2 linked regions of the Homo sapiens genome follow. The protein of the gene in region 2 binds, or shares a complex with, the protein of the main gene of each other region. Each region holds a gene or a part of one and is shown on either strand. Other genes may lie near its edges. The genes, in order: CUL1 and CAND2. A codon is read from its position in the direction of its gene.

Region 1 (7,268 bases), on a different chromosome or scaffold from region 2:
CCTGTCAATGCCACCCCTGAGTCTCTCCACTGGCTGTGACTTACCCAAGTGGTTTAGGAAAAGGAAAGTCCTGCTTAGTTACCATTTTAAACAAACCCAATCAGAAATAAGCAAAATGTCAATTATCAGTAGGCTACATAAAGGAAGGTGTGTTCCCATAACACAACACCCATAAAAGCAACAAAAACGACCCAGTGCTTCTCGATACCGCAATGCGACGAACCTCCCGAAGATACTGCTGAGGAAATTCTTACCAGGCACGGGAGTGTGTGCTCTAGAATCTGTTTATGTATCACGCAAAAGCAGGCAAAACTGTTTTATGGTGTCAGAAGACACGACAGTGATTTTCTATGGGACACAGGTGCTGGCTGGGGTGGGTGGGCTTCCGGGATGCCGGGCATGTTTCAATTCTTACCTGGGTGCTGATCACACAGTGTATTGACTGTGAAAGTCATCAAGCTGGCACTTCATCATCTGTGCACTTTGTATGTGTGTTTCAACAGTTAAACTGAAGCCGACTTTCTTTTATAGAAATCTACATACAAAGAAGCCAGCTCCCTCCTCCTTCATGCTACAGCAATCAATCCACTTTTTGCTACATCTTTTATCTTCTAAATTAAGAAAGGAATGTGACTGCTATGTAAAGTCCTGTACCTTGATCACAGGGACTCGAGGTTTGAACCTGGAGGACAGCTGAGTGAGGACCTCGCCAAGTAACTGCTGGTGTTTCAGAACCTTCCTCATCTTCATGATTCTCACGATGGCCGCCTATGCAACAAGATAAGGAAAAAGAAGTGCATTTAGAGCTGTAACAACGTTGTATTGATAGTTAAGGACAAGCTGCACAGAGGCTGCCGACGCCTATGCACAGGATCACAATTTCCTAACAGGCAACAAACATCCTGCAGGTGAGACGGGAGAGGGAACCAATTCTACCTGCCTATGTTTCAACTCTAACGTGGCAAACATTACAATGTTTGGGTCTTTTGAGCAATTTTACCTCAATAATTTAACTCAACCATAAAGCATTAAAAAAAAGGAGACAAAATTAAATCTTCAAGGCCACGGAAGCTGCCCATCCTCCCCACTGAAGAACTCTCCTTCCCCCTCATTTCAGCCAAACCTGCCACAATGTTTGCTTTCCAACATTTAGAGCAAGAGGACTGCCCTGTTTTGCCTGGTGACATAAAGGACTAATTCAGATAACAAGGCCCTGGCTCTCGGCCTTGCCACCTTCTGCCATCACAGACCCATTCATCTGGCAATCACTCCTTTGTCACCCCCGCCTACCCCCCACGGCCCGTCCTTGCGAGCCATCCCTGCGTGAGGGACAGCACACCTGGCACAGGCATACAGATAAGTCACCTGAATCAGTAGTTTGCGGTCTTCCTCGATGTTTTTGTGTGTGGTTTCTTGTTCCTGCTTCTGTTCGGTTTTCATTGGCACATTGATGTTAACCCTTAATTTCTTACTATCAAGAAAAATGAGGAAACCGATCACTATTATATTAAAAGGTAGGCAGTGAAGGCTGCTTTCTATTTTTCAACCTTTAAGAAGTGCCCTGCTTCCCTAGACAGAGGGGAGAATGTTGATTTCTGTGAGCTCTCCGTGAAAATGTCCTCTACCCAGCACTGGGTAGAGTCCGATCATGGCCTAGTTTCCTACTCGGCCATTAACAGGGACATCCACATTACAGAAAATCCAGGTCCCTAATCTGCTCTCCCAAATTTTGTCAAGTGAGATAAAATCAAGCCACTTGGACACAAAGGTCCAAACTTTCTTGGTGAGCCATTTAAGGAGACTTATTTGCCAAAATAATAAAAATCCCAGAAGCTCAGAATTGGAGAAACATCAGGCTCGCTGAATGGAATCAAAGGCCTACCTCACACTCCCAGCCTAGTGCCTGTCGCTTCACACTGAGTCCCCGGTCTCCCTTGGTTTGTAACAATACTGAGATCCGTGCTAGGGCTCCCGGGGGACGTGTCTATGGTCAAGGGCCATCTACTTATTAGATTTTTCTTACTTTTTATAACCAAGATATAATTTTATTAAGGTATCTGGCTTCAATTCCACCTCATCAACATTTGCATTTTCATCTTCCAAGACCTGTAAGAAAACAATTGTTACTCTACAATCTCAGGAAAAGGCTTCTTCTAGTGTAAGATAAAAGGGCGCAAACCTACCAATAGCTTCGACTTTAATAAAATCTGTAAAACTTGCGCCAAAATGTCCTGCAATTAAAGAGAAAAAGAGGAAGTTAAAGGGAAAATGCATTTTTCTTTGCAATAACCACCACAGGCAACCTCACAGTCCATTTTCCATTAAAAAAAAAAAAAAAAATCACCCAAAAGAAGAGTATGCTGGAAGGAAAAAAAAGTTGGTACTTCTTAGAAGTTCACTAAATTTACTGCTTCCTTCCACCCTGACTTCTAGAAGTGAAATCAACCCCTTTCTGGCCTTGATCACACAATAATAGAAATGAACAATTCTGTTATACTTAAATCAGGTTGAGTAACCCTTATCTGAAATGCCTGGGACTAGAAGTGTTTGGATTTCGGAATACTGCACTGGATTTACAGATTCAGCAGCCCTGATTGGAAAATCCGAAATTTCAACTGCGCCATGAGCATTTTTTTTTTTTTTTTTTGAGCATCATGTTGGTGCTCAAAAATGTTTGGATTGTGGAGCATTCTGGAATCTGGATTTTTGGATTAGGGATGTTGAACCTGTATTGGAAACCATGCACAATGAAATCTTCAGGAACTCTTCACTTCTTAAGTGCCTGACAGCTCATCTTGGACACTGATCATCACAAAAGAAATATTAAAGAGCTGCCCAGCAAGACTGAAAATAATGTCCTGCTCATGAGAACAGTGGGGCTCAGCGGCAGGCGACCTTGTCAACTTGCCTTTGATGCACTCAAGCACGTTGTGTGGCCTCTCATCTGTGAATGGTGGGTGTGGTAAACGCTTCCCAGCCCTCCTTCAGCCTCACAGCTTTATGATCCCATGAAATCCAAGGGACCAGCCTGAGGGCACTCACAGAGTCACACGGACTCTTACAACCCACGGGCAGTGGAGTCCTGTCGTCATAATGGGTACCCATTCTGGTCTGAGGATACGTGGTGAAAGCTGTCAAAGCGAGAGGCCTCTCTCTAGTCTAGTAACTGACCCAGAACTGCCAGCAGCCATTCGAATACTGCCCACTGCATCTAGAGCAGGGTGCGGGGGTGCCCACTTCCTGAGCCAGGTCTGATTGGACAGCATCTACTGTGGGCAGAAAGGAGAGAGCAGCGGCAGCCTCCTGAGGGAGTTCTAACACTGAGAACCACTCAGGAGACTGGCCTAAAATCCTGATCAGAAGCAGCCAAGCAAAGACCTGACAGTCCACACCTGTCAGCCCTGTCCTCAGGACCCGTCTGCACAGCCCTCCCCACAGTCTAGGGGGCAACCAGGCCTCCAACCTACAAAGGCACAAACTCATTTTGTTATTAGAATCTGAAGATATATTTAGGAGTAATTCGAAGAATGATTACAAAATAGTCATTCAAAATGACTTTCCTAACTCAGTCCATAAGGCCAGGATTAGCCAGACACGAAAACCAAACGAACATCTTGAGAAAACAATGGAGCAATATCCCTTATGAATATAAATGCAAAACTCGAGAAAATACCGGCAAGCTAAACCCAACAACATAGAAAAAGGATTATATACCATGACCAAGTGGGACTCACCCTAAGAACACCAGGGTGGTTCAACATCAGTGCAATACACCATATTAACAGACAAAAAAGCAGTTATTTTGACAGAGTAGAAAAAGCATTTTGACAAAATACAACACTCTTGCATGATACAAAATTCAATAAACTAAGAATAAAAGGGAACCTCTTTAGTCTGATAAAGGACATCTAGTAAAAGCTCACAGCTAACACCATCACTCTTTAACATCACAGTTAAACAGTAAAAGACTGGAAGCTTTCCCAATAAGGGCAGTAACAAGACAAGGATGCTTGTTCTTGCCACAAATTCTAGCCAGAAGAATCAGGCAAAAACAAAGACAAACAAAAAAGAAATAAAAGGCAGCCAAATAAGAAAAGGAAGAAGCAAAACTGCCTGTATTTATAGATGATATGACAGTATATCAAAAAACTCTAAGGAATCCCCCCAAAAACTATTTGAGCTAATAAATTAGAGCTAATAAACATTTAGCAATGTTATAGGAAACAGAATCAAAATACAATAATTAGTTGTACCTTTTTTTTTTTTTTTTTTTGAGACAGAGTCTTGCTCTGTCGCCCAGGCTGGAGTGCAGTGGCGCAATCAGGGCTCACTGCAAGCTGCGCCTCCTGGGTTCACACCATTCTCTCGCCTCAGCCTCCCGAGTAGCTGGGACTACAGGCACCTGCCACCACGCCCGGCTAATTTTGTTTTTGTATTTTTAGTAGAGACTGGGTTTCACCATGTTAGCCAGGATGGTCTCGATCTCCTGACCTCGTGATCCGCCCGCCTCGGGCTCCCAAAGTGCTGGGATTACAGGCGTGAGCCACCACACCCTGCGGTACTTAGTTGTACTTCTATACATTAGCAACGAGCAATCAGAAAGTGGAACAGGCTGGCATGGTGGCTCATGCCTGTGTAATCCCAGCACTTTGGGAGGCCAAGGTGAAAGTGTCACTTGAGCCCAGGAGTTCAAGACCAATCTGGGCAACACAGTGAAACACCATCTCTACAAAAAATACAAAAATTAGCTGAGCATGGTGGCAAGCGCCTGTAGTGCCAGCTACTCAGGAGGCTGAGGAGAGAGGATCATTTGATACCGCAGTGAGCTATGACTGCACCATTGCACTCCAGCCTGAGCAAGAGACCCTGTCTCAAAAAAACAGAAAAAAGTGAAATTAAGAAAACAACTCTGCCAGGCACGGTGGCTCACGCCTATAATCCCAGCACTTTGGGAGGCCGAGGCAGGCAGATCACTTGAGGTCAGGAGTTCAAGACCAGCCTGGTCAACATGGTGAAACCCTGTCTGTACTAAAAATACAAAAAATTAGCCAGGCATGGTGGCGCACGCCTGTAATCCCAGCTACTTGGGAGGCTGAGGTGGGAGAATTGCTGGAACCCAGGAGGCGGAGGTTGCAGTGAGCCAAGATTGCACCACTGCACTCCAGCCTAGGAGACAGAGCAAGACTCCGTCTCAATTAAAAAACTAAAAACCAATTCCATTTATAATAGCATCAAAAAGAATAAACTAGGAATAAATTGAAAGTAGTAGAAGATGCATACACTGAAAACCATGAGACACAGTTGAAAGAAAAGACAACCTAAATAGATGAAAAGACATCCCATGTTCATGGAGTGGGAGACTTAAAATACTGCTGAGATGGCAATACTCCCCAAAGCAATCTATAGATTCAGTGCAATCCTTATCAAAATCTCAACTGCACTTTTTGTAGAAATGGACAAGCTGATCTTGAAATTCATAAGGTAACATAAGGGATCCAGAATAGCCAATATAATCTTGGGGGAAAATAAAACGAAGTTAGGGGTCTCGATTTCAAGATTTACTGCAAAACAACAGTAATCCAGACAGTGTGATACTGGCATAGTAAAGATATACAGATCACTGGAAAATAATTGAGAATCCAGAAATAAACCCATATATACCTATGGCCAACTGACTTTTGACAAGTTTGCCAGCACCAAACAATAGGGAGAGAATAGTCCTTGGCCTCAGACTAGGCAATGATTCCTTAAAAATGACACCAAAACCACAAACAATATAAAGAAAAAATAGATAAAATAGGCTTCATCAAAATTAAAAATGTGTGTATATAAGAAAGTAAGAAGACAACCCACAGAATGGGAAAAAACATTTGTAAATTACATATTTGATAAGGATCTAGTATACAGAATATTAAAAGAATTCTTACGACTCAACAACAAAAAGACAAATAACCCAACTGAAAAATGGGCAAAGAATTTGATCAAACATTTCTCCAAAGAAGATATACAAATGGCAATAAACACAAAAAAGATTCTACACATCATTAGTTGTTAGAGAAATGCAAGTCAAAAACTGCAAGATACTACTTCACATCCACTGGGATGGCTATAATTTTTTTTAAAAATGAAAATAACAAATGTTGGTGAGGATATGGAGAAACTGAAAGTTTCATACACTGTTGGTGAGAATATGAAATGGCACAGCCACTATGGAACAGTCTGGCAGTGCCTCAAAAAATTCAGCTATTACATGACTCAGCAATTCTATACCTAGGTATATACCCAGGAAAATTGAAAACATGTATTCACAGCAGCATTGTTCATAATTGGAAACAACTTAAATGTACATCAACTGATGAACAAATAAAATGTGGTCCATCTATACATTGGATTATTCGACCACAAAAAGAAATGAAGTACCAACACATGCTAGAACATGGGCAAACCTTGCAAACAGTATACACTGAGGGAAAGAAGGCAGGCACAGAAAGTCATGTGTTATATGATTCCATTTATATGAAATGTCTGGAGTAGGCAAATTGATAGCAAATTAATGGTTGTCAGGGGCTGGGAGCTAGCGGGCAGTTACTGCTAATGGGTGCAGGTTTCTTTTTGGGGTGATAAAACACTCTGGAATTGGATAATGGTGGTAGTTCTATAAGCTTGTGAATATACTAAAAACCACTTTGTACACTTTAAAATGACTTTTATGTTATGTCAAATTTTATTATCTAAAATATATCTCAATAAAAAATATGGCTAGCAGGAAAAATAATACTAAAGTGGAAATTTAAGCTTAGTAAGAAAAGCCTAACTGGTTAAATGAATGAGAGAAAAGCATGGATGAGGAGTATGTGTGTGTGTGTTACACGTAGTTTTATTTTTAAGAGACAGGGTCTCTGTCACCCACGCTGGAGTACAGTGGCACGATCATAGCTCACTGCAGCCTCGACCTCCCAGGCTCAAGTGATCCTCCCGCCCCAGCCTCCCAAGAAGCTGGGACTACAGGCATGTGCCACCATGCCTGGCTCAACAATGAGTTTTAACATGAAGCTTTTTGTAGTGCGTATTAAAATCCTGGAATAAGGCCATATTCATATTCATGAGGCAAACATCTATTTCAAATTAAAGATGCCCATATCCTCTTCCTTATCTTTCCTAACAATATCCACGAGAACAAGGAAACGGCAAGCTGATAGAACAACGAGCCTGAGATGAGAATACCATTTTAATTTGAGTGCTGTCGGTCAGCTGCTGCACAGTGTAGG
Region 2 (7,268 bases):
GCCTAGATGTGGGCTGAGACTCCAGTGTGGCCCAGTGAGGGGCTGCAGGCTCCAAGCTCTGAAGGGGCGAGGGCTCTGCCTTCCTAGGAAAAACCCAGTGGTCCTGCCGAGCCCCAGAGGGAGGTCTCAGTTCCTCTCCTCCCAGTGAAGGCTGCTTGGGCTCCTCAGGCCAGAAGGCCCCTCAGACAGAGGGCGATCTAGTGGACAGGCGGGGCCGGGGGGAGCACTCTTCCCTGCCCCACTTTGGGGCCCGCAAAAGCTAAGGCATGTGAGAGGCTGGTGGTTTTCCATTCCCAAGAGTCTATATGTTGATGAAGCATCTTCTCCCTCAGTTGCCCATGGGCTTCCAGGACAACTCTAGAAAATGCAGATAATAAGAGTTTCTCACGCCCATTTGACAGATGAGGAAAGCGAGGCTTAGAGGTGTGATGGGCATGCCACACCCACCCATGATTGAGTGGCAGTAGGAAGGCAGGGATGTGAACCCAGGCCTTTTAACTGGAGGGCCAGGCCCTGCTGCCCATCATGGGCACACCTCCCGGGTCTCCCATTGCCCTTGGCTATTGGGTAGTAAACATCAGCCCAAGCTCAAGGACTGGGTGGGGGCACTGAACAAGGTGGAGGGGCAAGAGGTAGGTGCTCACCGATGAAGCTCTTCAGGAGGGGGTCAATGGGATGGGGCTGGTCCGAGATAAGGAACTTGACCGCTGTGATGACGGTGCTCCGGGTGTGTGGCCGACCTGCAGGACAAGAAGAGGTGAGTTAGTGAGGGGCAGGGGCCAATCCTGGAGGCTCACAGATCAGAAGGTGCTTAGGCTCCTCCCCCTGCTTCCCTGGAAAACAGAACTGTACCCCCTCCCCATCTCTGGGAAAGTGGATTCTACCATTTCCCTTGGCAGCCTTGAATCTCCCCTCAATTCTTCCTGCTGCAGCTGAAACAGTAGGACTGCCAGTGCTCAGGTAACACCACAGGCTGCAAACAGGGAACCAATAACCAAGACAGGAACTGCTCCAACAAAGACCTTCCCTCAGGCCTTGGGATTTTTCAGACATGTTATCTCAATGAGTCCTAACAATGATCCTATTAATAATAAAGTAGTATTAAAAGAACCAATAAAATCACCAATAAAAATCATCTCTTTGACATATGAGGAAAGAGAGACTCAGAGGGTTTAAGTTCATGTCTAGGGCCACACAGCAGATCCAGAATTCCTGGCTGGGCCCCTCTTCCTGGGGCTGCGTTCTGGCTGGTGGTCAGGGAGGCCTAACAGAACTCGGATCACCTCCAGGCTCGGTCACAGAGAGCTTGCTTACTTGTGCTTTGCCGCTTGCTTTCTGAGTAGAGAAGCCCAGTAAAGAGGGGAAGTACATTCCCTTAATGAAGGAAACGAATGGGTGGACGCTCCACCTGCGTCTGAATCTCTCCTCAGTGGCTCGCCCCCTTTGCTCCCTGCCCAACCCCAGCACAATGCAGTGAATGGGCTAAGGTGTTTCCACCCCACAGGCTTTATGTTCAGCCTCGAGGAAAAGTTTACCATTTGGTGCTAAGGCATGAATGAATGGAAGAGTTACTGAATTCAGACTTTCAGCTTTTACCTCTTTCCCTTGCCAGCCTGACTGGCTCCCAGGAAGATTTAGGGTGGCTGATGAAGACAGGCACAAGAGAGTAAGATTAAGTGAACTGAAAACAAGAACAAGGCCAAGGACGACTGAAGGCAGGGAGGTGAGAAGGAGACTAGCAGGAAGATGTACAGAGAGCATCAATAAGGAAGTCCCAGGAACCTACTAGAAGCAGACCACTCATCTGGCTCTAAGCTTCCCAGCAGTTGGTGCTAAAAAGGAAATGTGACCGGGTGGCTGGTTCAACAGTGCACGTGAGATAGAAACAAATAGGTGTTTAGGCAAAGCAGGGCTCCTCTGCATCTTAACACTCTCGTCTCTCAAGGTTGTGTGATGTAATAGACAGTGTCCTCAACAATGTTCTTCCATCCAGTCCTGAGGCCAGACAACTGCTTCTTACGAACCCAGCAACCCAAGAAGGCCTTAACTGAAATCACTAACCTACCTAGTAACAACAGCAGCTCTTGATTTACTCAGTATTAATTACTGTAGGTACCACATAGGTTACCAAACACTGTACCTGCATTCTGTCAAGCAGAGCATCCACTGGTTCTGTAAGGGGCCAGCTGGCCAGCTCGAAGCCCACTGGCCTTTCATTCTGGGAACTCTCATTTTCCTAGGAGCCTGATGACCCTACCTGTCTGCTTTCCACCTCCTGAAGCTAAGACACCTGGTGTGCCAAAACACGACAAGCCAAAACGCCTGCCCCTCCTGGTTCTTGCCCAGCCCTCTCCAAGCCTCGGGGGCATGTCAGCCTGTCCCCGTCTATACTGACGTCTGCTCTTGGCTCAGGCTAGCCGAAAGAGCTGACCCTCTGCAGGCTGCAGTCTACGGCTACTGGGAAAACTGTTTTTGTTGACCTCTGTGTGGAGCACTAAGCTACTGTCCACATCAAGGATTATGAAGTTGGCATCATGAGGTTTTTTGTTTTGTTTTTTTTTTTGGTAGAGGCAGGGTCTCACCATGTTGCCCAGGCTGGTCTCAAACTCCTAGGCTCAAGTGATCCACCCACCTCAGCCTCCCCAAAGTGCTGGGATTACAGACATGTGCCACCATGCCTAGCCAACATCATGAGATTTTTAAATGTATTTGTTGTAGGGACCAATCAAGGACTCTGTCCCTTCTATCCCACAGTCCCATAGGAGGAAGGCTTTAAGTCTCAGGTATCACTGTGTGTTCCTCTGTAGCTTCCTTGCCTCTGTCGTATAGATACCGTGATTCTTGTATCCAGTGACTTGAAATAGCTCACTCTGCCCCAGCTGCCTGGATGCTCAGTGGCAAACTGCCCACCTCCGAGGTGGGCTGCCTTGCCCACACCTGTGTGCCTACCTGCAGCAAGCTGCTTCCGCAAGCGGGGCAGAAGGAACGAAGGGTTCACAAGGACCAGCTTCCCAATGCACTCGGCCACCACCCCCCGGGTGCCCTCCTCAGCACCCTCGCAGCGCTGGAACAGCAAGGCCCAGATGTCCTCGGCGTAGGGCTTCAGGCTGTCAGGCTGGGCGGCCCCCAGGGCCTCCCTGAGTGAGTGCAGCAGCAGGTACTGTCGTCGGGGCTCAGCCTCGATCTGCTCCAGCAGGAAGGGCAGGAAGTCGGGCAGGCTGCCAGCACCCACACGGCCCAGTGCATACGAGGCTGCAGCCCTCACATCCTCACTGGGTGACCCCAAAGCTTCCAGGAGCACCGCCTTCAGCTCCCGCTGGTGGCCTGGCCCAGCCACCTGACCCACCTCAGCCAGCGACAAGAATGCCAGGACCTTGACCCCCGTGCTGGAGTGGGGCGACCTGGCATCGCAGACCAGGCGACTGGCTGTGCTTGCCGCCTCTTGGGGACAGGCAGCTGAGAGGGCTGCCACACACCGGGCCAATGAGTGGAACACCTGCTTGTGCAGGCCAGGCCCACCATCCACAGCCTGCTCATAAACAGGCGCAGTGAGCAGGCTGATGAGTTTGGCATAGTCCACACACGGGGGACGGGTCCCTACCAGGGCCTGCAGGAAGCCTTCAGCAGCTGCCAGAACCCCGGCTGGCAACAGGGGCGAACGCAGCAGCCGCAGCAGCTCTGAGAGCACAGGGCCACTGACCTCCACCAAAGAGGCTGGCTGGGCCTGGGTCACTGTGGCAAGGAAGTCCACAGCCAGCTGGGCCACATGCATGTCGCTCTCGTTGACCAGGGCAGGCAGCTCAGCCAGCACGGCCTGCACGGCAGACGGTGGGAGGCTGAGGCCCTGGCTCTGGGCCAGGGCGTCCAGGGCTGCCAGTGTGGCCAGTCGCAAAGCCCGCTGGTTCTTCCGCAGGAATGAGGCCAGAATGTGCAGTGCCTCGGCCAGGATGGGCTGTAGGTCAAGCTGTAGTGGGGATACGGCCACCAGCGTAAGCGCCTTGATGGCGGGCAGCCGGGTGATCTCATTCCGCAGGCGGTCCAGGAGGAGCAGTAACGTGGGCTCCAGGTCATCCCCAAGCCGGTCACCCAGGTGGCCTACAAGGTGGCCCATGCAGGAAATGGCCCGCTCCTTCACCTCCTGGTCCAGGTCAGTGGCACGAAGTCGCGCCAGGGTGACAGCAGACATCTCTCCAACATATGGCTCAGGATCCAGCATCCGAGGCCTGTGCAGCGGCCACAGGGCCCGCACCAGCTCCTGCAGCACCACCAGGGCCTCGGCTGCAATCTTGTAGAAAGAGTCAGCCACACAGGCCATCACAGGTGGCAGGAGGATAGGCAAGTGTGGGTGGAAGGCCTCAGCTGGTTCGGTGCCCAGCAGCCCCTGCAAGAAGGCCAGGGCATCCATCCGGATGGTGGAGGAGCTGGAGCGGTCGGCCAGCGAGAAGATGATGCCTGCAGGGTGAATGCAAAGGTTATGAGGCCACCGCCTCTGATGCAACACGGCCCTCCCTGGAAGCAAGGCTGGGGTACCTACAAGTGCCTGAGCTGGACTGAAGCACCTAAACTCTTCTGCAGAAGTTTCCAAGAAGTCAGCCCTGACCAGTGGCCAGGGCTGAGGGAAACATGTCCAGGGAACTCACTGGAGCCAGCCTTGTTCTCACTGCTGGTAGTGGGAGGCCACTGGAGACTCTTGACCAGGGACTGAGCCTGGGATTGGGTCTCAGACTGTCTCAGGAACTGGGGGCTCAACTCAGGGGTGGGGTCTGGGTTCTGGAAGTGGCCCAGAACAGCAGATACCTGGTTGCAGTCCAGCCTACCTGATACCAGCACAGGCATATGCTCGGCCAGGCTGCCTGGGAGGACACCCGCCAGCTCGGTGAGGAGGCTGAAGCATCCCTGGCGGGCTCTGACGCTCCGATCTTTAAGCTGCCGCTGCAGGGCCTTGACCACAAGGGGCACCTGTGGGCAGGAGGGGGAAGTCAAGGTCAGGGAACACCCAAGAAACCTACCCACCTGCCCACTACCAGGAGGCTTTGCCAGACACATCCCCAGGGAGGATGTCGGCATCAAGATATCTCCCAAGCACTCGTCCCTCACTCTGTGCCAGGCTTTTGGTGACCGCACACAGACCCTTGGAGAGTAGGCAAATTTTCTGCGTCCATTTTACAGGTACAGAGAGACCAAGCAACTTGCTCAAGCTCACTCAGGCAGGCTGGCTGTCACTACTACACTCCAGAAGCCTGGCTGGCTCCCGCCCCCCACCCCAGGGACCCCTTCCCTTCCCTTCCATGGCTGGATGTTCTCCCAGCTGAGTTTCCAAGTCCAGGGACACTAACAGTGAGTGGCTGGGTAGGCAAATCGGGGGTAGGGGTGGAGGTGAAGGCACGCCCACCTGTCCACGTAGCATATGGAGGTTGCTGCCGGTCTGGGTGGGTTCCTCCATGGCCTCCAGCCATCCCTTCGGGGGCTGTGTTTGCCGCAGCAGCACGATGTAAGCAGTGAAGACGTCAGCCTTGACGTTCTCCTCGCGTTCTTTGAAGCGGCGGATGAGCACAGGTGCCAGGGTGCAGTGGAAATCGGGCAGCAGGTCAGGCCGCGAGCTGATCAAGGCTGCGATGCACTTGGCAGCTGCCCGGCGCACCTTCCAGCTCATGTCATCGTCATCGCTGTACTCGTCTTCACTCTCTGGGGCAGGAACAAGACACACGTGGAACCCTCATCTCCCAGGACAGGTCTGTGGCTCGGGGGAGAAGGGACAGGGAGGAGAGAGAGCTGGGCACTGTGCTTCACTTTTTGATGATCAGCATTTATAGATACCCTATGGGGAACATTCCCTACCTTTTAATGGGCATCTACTGAGTGCTACGGATGGGGCTAAGCATGTCAAACCCATAATCTTATTTTAGCTTCATGACGACCTTTTGAGACAGGGATTATTTCCCCATTATAGAGATGAGAAAACTGGGGTTTAGATAGAGGAAGTGGCTTGCCCCAAGTTAAGGAAATACTTGGAGTTAAACTAGGGTCCTCCCCTCTGCCTCCAGACCCTTAATTGTCTGGACTGTACCAGGGAAAAAACAGACTTCCAAGTCTTCATGTAGACTTGGAGAATCAATTTGGGGCACAAAACTCATCTTTTGGCATCAGGTTTGGCTATGTGATGTTTCGTTTACTGGGACTCCAGAAGGGAGAAGGGACAGAGCCTCCCTTTGGCCTCTTCTCTCCCCCGATCTCTGCCTCTCAAGGGTCCTGATTCCAAAGGCTTCCAGGCAGGATTAATAAAGAGGAAATGCTGGGTTTGTGTGGCTTTCTACCTGACAATCTCCCTGAAAGTCAAGGGCTCGTGCAGTCTTTACCATCACCTCAAAAGTGAAGGTACTGCCAAGCTCCATTTTACAGACGATAAGACTAAGACTCAGAGCGGGTGAGACTCTCAGGGCACACAGCGAGGAACAGCAGAGCTGAGATTCAGGTCCACGAGGCCCAGCCCTATCACCTGTGGAGGCACACAGGAGGCTCAGAGGGGGACAGTCTTGCCTGGGAGCACCCCAAGGCACAGGCTCAGAGCCCAGCATGGCCTTGCCCATACCACTCTGTGGACCACTTGGACCCACAGGGTGGTGTCTGGACAGCCACAGTGGGCCACGGCCACCGGGCAGCTCAGCAGCCATCCCCTCTAATGGATCACTGTCACCCCCACAGTAGGCCACCCACGAACACACATCCTTAGCTCTCTATTACTGACAAGTGTCCCACCTCCCTGGCTTGGCATTCAAGGCCCCCGCATGCCTGTCCAATCTCATTTACCATCCCATCTTGTTCCAAGTACCCCATCAGGCTCTAAATCCATCGTCTCCATCGATGCCCTGCCTTCAGGCCTAGGGGCATCTCTGCCCTGGAAATCTGTCTGAATGACAGACAGGACCACAGGCATAGGAGGAAAGAAGCTATCAAGTCCACCCCCATTGAGACATCTTGCTCCCCTGCCAGTGCCTGCCATTCCACCATCAGAGCTTTCCTCTGCTGGGTTAAAGACATTATCTCCTGAAAGCCATTCATAAAAGGGTACACGGTGGCAGTGCAGAGGTGGGGGAGCCTGACAGACCTGGCTCTAAGGCCCAGCTATGCCAATTCCTAGTTGTGTTATCTCAGGCCACTCTCTTCTCAGTATGTGTCCTTGTCTGAAACACGTGGGTAATAATTTCTGTTTTTTTAGGGTTATTGTGAGGAACACAACTAGTAGATGCTCAATAAATGACAGCAATGAC

What was found.
Region 1: the proteins of CAND2 (region 2) and CUL1 are in contact, whole or in part, in a cryo-EM structure (PDB 8VVY), measured with the Homo sapiens proteins. Residues at the interface, in NP_001155971.1 of Homo sapiens: Asp21, Phe22, Phe24, Met25, Asn61, Gly62, Glu63, Gln65, Asn66, Leu67, Glu100, Gln101, Asp104, Asp156, Asp160, Leu189, Ala190, Lys193, Arg194, Glu276, Gln280, Asp343 (codon at 5,665), Asp344 (codon at 5,662), Trp349 (codon at 5,647), Lys350 (codon at 5,644), Arg353 (codon at 5,635), Glu389 (codon at 5,527), Ser492 (codon at 4,420), Ser493 (codon at 4,417), Thr494 (codon at 4,414); in NP_001357589.1 of Homo sapiens: Val31, Thr33, Arg34, Gln35, Met37, Lys39, Tyr42, Met111, Asp112, Trp123, Arg127, Phe128, Val132, Asn181, Leu184, Glu188, Gly193, Glu194, Thr195, Asn197, Thr198, Arg199, Ser202, Gln206, Val209, Glu210, Gly212, Leu213, Asn214, Lys221.

What each region holds. Positions count from the first base shown.
Region 1 is NC_000007.14:148,792,775-148,800,042, reverse strand, and holds part of CUL1 (cullin-1), read right to left. Parts: coding exon 7,225-7,268; intron 2,232-7,224; coding exon 2,184-2,231; intron 2,107-2,183; coding exon 2,024-2,106; intron 1,472-2,023; coding exon 1,366-1,471; intron 769-1,365; coding exon 655-768; intron 1-654. UniProt on the Homo sapiens protein: Core component of multiple cullin-RING-based SCF (SKP1-CUL1-F-box protein) E3 ubiquitin-protein ligase complexes, which mediate the ubiquitination of proteins involved in cell cycle progression, signal transduction and transcription.
Region 2 is NC_000003.12:12,813,558-12,820,825, reverse strand, and holds part of CAND2 (cullin-associated NEDD8-dissociated protein 2), read right to left. Parts: intron 5,686-7,268; coding exon 5,393-5,685; intron 4,960-5,392; coding exon 4,818-4,959; intron 4,453-4,817; coding exon 2,950-4,452; intron 741-2,949; coding exon 645-740; intron 1-644.